Regions from separate parts of the Homo sapiens genome. Here region 1 is linked to region 2. Evidence: fine-mapped QTL for protein levels in blood plasma. A gene starts in region 2. The other region holds a variant in brackets. All regions are shown on one strand. Distances are from middle to middle.

Region 1 (2,914 bases), 16 kb after region 2:
TCTCTAAGATGGCTCCCAGTTAAAACATTGAGTTTTGTTTGTTTTTTGTTGTTGTTATTGTTTTTCTTTTGAGACGGAGTCTCACTCTGTCGCCCAGGCTGAAGTGCAGTGCCACAATCTCAGCTCACTGCAACCTCTGCCTCCCAGGTTCAAGAGATTCTCCTGCCTCAGCCTCCCAAGTAACTGGGATTACAAGTGCCTGCCATCACACCCAGCTAATTTTTGTATTTTTGGTAGAGACAGGGTTTCACCATGTTGGCCAGGCTGGTTTTCAACTCCTGACCTCAGGTGATCTGCCTGTCTTGGCCTCCCAAAGTGCTGGGTGGGATTACAGGAGTAAGCCACCACGCCTGGCCCGTCTGTTTTTTAATGTTATCTCCTTCTAAAGATCTTCCCCTCAATATCTCTAAGGAAGAAAGGTTGGATCTTAATAGGAAATCTAGTTTCTTAAGACTTTTATGCTTCTCACAGAGCCAGAGTTACTTTTGTGAGTGTATTCATCAATTGCCTTTGGTCTAACTGAAAAAACAAACCCCACACCTTAGTGCAGAAACACAGATACACAGAAAGAGACAAAGTTCTCACCTATACCCCTTCCCCCATACTCCTAAATTCCTGTGAAAGACCAGCAAAAAAATGGATTTTTACCCCAGTATGGATTTTGTGTATGTTCACACTAAATACAATTCACAAAGTTTTATCTTTCTATGAAGAAACTAAATGCCACAGTGTATTCACACTTACAGGAATTTAAAGCTTTTATTGTAAAGCTAAGGCAGCATGAAGAGTAAGTGCTGTAATTTAATGTATAAATTCATTCTATGTTGATTTCTATAGTAGGAAAAAGCAACTTTGGTCTGTCTGTGGTTCCATCATCAATTCACTGAGTTAAATAGAAAGCTTCAGGAATATAGTATTAACAGAGACCCCAAAATTACAGATAAATCCAGTAATGGAGCTTACAATACAGAATTAGAGGGTGCTAATTAATGAATTTTGGGAACAAGTCAGCAGTTAATAAATATTCATTAGGAAGTTGCAGTATATATTTCTCTAAGTTACCAAGTGACCTAGATATGGAATATTGAAAAAGATAATTTTGTATCTTTTGTATCTTTTTTAATTCCTGCTAAATTAATAGAAATATACTACTTGTATTTTCATCACCTACAACATTATTAACATTTTAGGGTGTAATTCTCCACACTTTTGTCTATGTGTAAGATTTTATAAAATATGAAGTACTGTAACACTGCTTCAGATTCTGCTTTTTCTCTTCAAATGCATCTGGGGTCCTAGTAATATGTAATTTCTTAACCTGGATAGTGGTGAACACAGATCTGTTTGCTTTGAGCTAACTTATTGAGCTATGTAATTATGTTTTTTCTGTGTGTATATTTCAATTTTTTTAAGTTTATTTAAAAACATATCCTAGGCTGGGCTTGGTGGCTCACGCCGGTAATCCCAACATTTTGGGAGACGGAAGCAAGTGGATTGCTGGAGCCCAGGAGTTCGAGACCAGCCTGGCCA[A/G]TAGAGGGAGACCTCGTCCCTACTAAAAATTTAAAAAATTAGCCGGGCATGGTGGCTCACACCTGTGGTCCCAGCTACTCAAGACCTGCCTGCGCAGTATAGTGAGACCTTGTCTCTACTTAAAAAAAAAAAAAAATTAAATTAGTGGTCCCAACTACTCAGGAGGCTGAGGTGGGAGGATGGCTGGAACCCAAAAGGGTGAAGCTGCAGTGAGCCATGATCAAACCACTGCATTCCAGCCTGGGCGAGAGAGTAAGACCTTGTCACACACACACACAAAAAATTCCATCCTATATATTCCAAGTCAACATATATCTATATTACTCTAAATGGCTCTATAGTATTTCATGTTATGGATATATCATAATTCATTAAACAAATTCTGTATTTGGGGACATTTATAAGATTTACAACTTGTTACATGTACACTGCCTTCAATAAAAACTCTTCTATGTCTGCATTTATACTCTTGTGTCATAGGGCAGATTCTCTACAAAAATAAACACTGAGATTAAGATGTGCATTTAAGATGTTTACTGCAGGCCGGGCGCGGTGGCTCATGCCGGTGATCCCAGCACTTTGGGAGGCTGAGGCGGGCGGATCACCAGGTCAGGAGATGGAGACCATCCTGGCTAACACGGTGAAACCCCATCTCTACTAAAAATACAAAAAAATTAGCCGGGCGTGGTGGCGGGTGGCTGTAGTCCCAGCTACTCAGGAGGCTGAGACAGGAGGGAGAATGGCGTGAACCCGAGAGGTGGAGCTTGCAGTGAGCCGAGATCGCTCCACTGCACTCCAGCCTAGGCGACAGAGCGAGACTCCGTCTCAAAAAAAAAAAAAAAAAAAAAAAAAGTTTACTGCACAGCAATCTTGGGGCAATATCTGCAGAGGGAGTGAAGGAAGCATTATCGGGCAGAAGAGGTAGGATTTTGATGCAGTCACAACAAAGGCCTTGGCCAATCCCACAGGTATTCTAGCTTTCTTTAGAGCTAGATTGACCTTCAGAGTTGTTCTGAATTAAGGTAAAGGGACCAAGCCTTTATATCCCGTTACCATTTATTAGATGTTGACTGCCCTTGGGGAGGAGGCTTCACTTTTAGCAGGATGGTTCTCTGCCACTGTTACACTCTTGCCAATGCACCACAATGTAGTAGTCTCTCGCTGCCCAAGGCATCATCCTAAGTTCTTTGTCTCATGACCAAGAAAGTTAAGGATCCTGGACACCAAGGGTGAGGTTGGAGTGAAAGTTTAATAAGCGAAAGAAGAAAGCTCTCCGCTGCAGAGAGGGGACCTGGAAGAGGACTGTTGTTTCTACAGTTGAATGCAAAGGCTTTTATAGAAAACCCATGAGGGCTGGGAGTCTCCTTTGCATAAGGGGTGAATG
Region 2 (2,914 bases):
CTAAAACAGCCCACACTTAACAGTTTTATGTTTGGCATCAGGGAATCTACAAGGAAAGGAATTTTCTCAAGCCACTAAAATCCAAGTCAGAAGGGAAGGCATTTAATTACTCCATTCACCGTTCTCCAAAGTGAATCAGATTTACAGTTCTTACCCCTTGCTGGAAGGCAATGCCAGAAACAGTACCTAGACAGAACCGCTTCAGAAATCAGGTGTTTGCAACTGCGTTTTATTGAAAGAAAGAGTGGAGGGGTTAACATGGGGCCCACCTCACAACCCACTCTTCACCCCCAAAATCACGCAGGGATGGGACTCAGGAAAGGGAAGCATGTGTGTGTTGAATAGGAGCCCTAACTGTAGTTACTTCTTTCACAGCAGGGAAGGAAGAGGGAAGAGGCAGCTGTGGAGAGGATGAGGTTGAGGGAGGTGGGGTATCTCGCTGCTCTGACCTTAGGTAGAGTCCTCCACAGAAGCATCAAAGTGGACTGGCACATATGGGCTCCCTTCACAGGCCACAATGATGTGTCTCTCCTTCGGGCTGGTCCGGTATGCACAGTTGGGGTACCTGGAGCCGTTTGTCAGGCGGCAGTCTGTGATGTGCATGCTGGAGTTGCTCTTGTAGCAGTTGCCCTGCCCGTTCTTGCAGGTGACCTTTTCCTGGAAACAGACATTCTGGACATCTACCAGGGGCTCGTGCACAAAGGTGTTCACTGGTTTGCACCGCCCCTGTGTCATATTCCGGCGCCTCATCATTTGGTTACAGTAGGTGGAGCTGCTGCTGGGGGAACTGTCTGAGTCCATATGCTGCCGCTGGAATTTCTTGGCCCGGGATTCCTTGCCCAGGGAAGGCTGGACCCAGCCCAGCACCAGCAGTATCAGGACAAGCAGAAGGAGCCGGACAAGAGACTTCTCCAGAGCCATGGTGGCCTCACTTTCCCAGAAAAGCCTAATTGAGAAAAGGAGAGAGAAGGAAAAGAGCCCTCTTAGAAAAAGAACTCCAGCTCCCACCTATGGCTTGCCTGGTTTACACTTTCTGTTTCAGGTCAGCCAGAAAGACGTCCATCCTACTTCCTGAGGTTTTTCGTGTAATGAGACACTCACGTGTACCCTTTTCCACGAGCGTTTTATTCCCACTCTCCAAAGCGAGGTCTTCCTCCCCTCTAGGTGGTGACCTACAAAGTGACCTAAAATCCTGTCAGTTCCTATCTTTGAATACTGGAGTTTCTTTGATCCAAAATACATTTGTACCCAGTGCTCAAATGGCTCATCGAAACATCAGTTTGAATAAATCATGAACCAAATTGTATCCCCGACATCCAGGGCCATGGGTGACAGAGCCTTGTTGTCTTGGAGCATAAGGGAACTCAGGCCAGTGCCTGACACTGGCATCATAAAAGATTCCATTGTATTCCAGAGAGAAACGCTGGCCTCCCCCAATTTGGAGGCTCCTTCTTCTCCAGTCCCATGGATGCTCTGCAGCCTGCACGTTCCACCCTGACCCCTCTGCCCCCAGCTGATGTTTGCCTGGGCCACATTTTTTCAGCGCTAGCATCACCCAATCTTTCTCAGTGCTGTGGACTGGCCCTAGCTCCCTCTTCTGCAACCCTGAAGCAGAAGCGGCACCTGAGAACACCTCTTGGGCTGCTTACCTGGATCTGCAGCTTGGTGTCTGAGAGAGATGGAAGGCCAGTTTCTGCAATCACTCAGCTCCCGGGGTGTGGACCTTATACAGATTACAAAGGGGTTTGGCTTCCAAGAGGAAAAGGGTGGGAGGAGCATCTGGAGCTCAGTTCAAATAAAATCAAGGACGTGAGGAAGGAGTGGTGAATCACCCAGGCCGCCGTCTTTCTAGGGCTGCTGAAGAAAGAGCAAATCTTTGCCTACGTTAGTCTTTCTTCCTATGTGAACCACATCTGTCTGCTGATGCACAAGGAGCAGCAGAGAAAGCCACTACAGCACTGGTGCCCAAACCTGGCACACTAGGAACAAAGTCCTTGTTACTTCTTCGTGGGCGTTTTCACCAAGTAGACTTGGAGGTTAACAAAGGACGCAAAGGAGAGGTTCTAATGGGAGATAGGGAATTCTGGCCAAAGCTATTCCAGGGCTCCTAGGGAGCAAAACCCAAGTCTCTTTCTAGGAGGGCATTCTCCCAACGCTACCTCTCCCGGGGATGGGAGGCGGGGTCGGGGGGAATGGAGGCTGTCCTGCTGCCCCCAGCTGGAAGGCTTCCCAGATCTGGAGAAGAAAGGGGGAGTAACTGAATAGGGAGGAGGAGGAGGCCTCTAGGGTGCGCTCACCCAGTTCTGGCCACTTCCCACCCACCCTCCACCCCTGCTCTGGGGGCATCGAGAGGATGGGGCTGTTCTTATCTACAGTAACCACTGACCCTGTAGGTCGGAATTGAGTAGAGGAACTAAAGATAAACTTAAATCCCAAATCTCAAATTCTTTTTGGGGAAAAAATACAAAGAATATCATATTTATTAGCAGCAGAATGCCCTCCTAGAAAGAGACCTGTTTTTTTGCTGAGTAACAATTTGGATACCTCTAAGAATTATCAAAATATCCCTTCGTGCTGTGTATTCAGATTGTTTCAGCCTTTCTGTGTAAAAAGTGGCCATAGTGAAATTATCTGACCTACCTTGTGTGATTGTAGGTCGTAAGATCCTCATTCCAGAGAGGGTCCTGCCCCCCATACCCAGAAAAAAAGGACGAATGCTCAGAGAGGCCAAGAAGAATCTAGACAGGGAGGCCTTGCTGGGTTTCCCCACTCAGTCTATTTTCATTAGATCGCCCTGTTGTCCAGTCATATTTCTACACAGCTGTTCATACTTTGTTGATATCCAAGTGTAAGAATGCCCACTTTCCCCTGTTATCTTTGGGTCTTCTGAAGGCTCCCGTGTCGTGTAAAACTA

What was found. PIP is the chance, under the fine-mapping model, that this variant and not a neighbour inherited with it causes the effect. Protein levels are from the aptamer-based SomaScan assay of Sun 2018.
Region 1: its variant is fine-mapped to the plasma level of the RNASE1 protein (Sun 2018, PIP 0.95).

The regions. Positions count from the first base shown.
Region 1 is chr14:20,817,534-20,820,447 of GRCh38, forward strand. No RefSeq gene overlaps it. Among named protein-coding and RNA genes, the nearest start is that of RNASE1, 16 kb to the left of the region's middle. RefSeq lists a cis regulatory region at 2,803-2,914. The variant A/G (reference allele first, on the strand shown) is at 1,531.
Region 2 is chr14:20,801,148-20,804,061 of GRCh38, forward strand. It overlaps RNASE1 (ribonuclease A family member 1, pancreatic), which reads right to left and starts at 1,697. Exons shown (of 2, transcript NM_002933.5): 1 at 1,650-1,697; 2 at 81-946. The coding sequence starts at 921. The coding sequence ends at 451. The region is part of intron 3 of LOC105370397 (a long non-coding RNA gene); the gene reads left to right.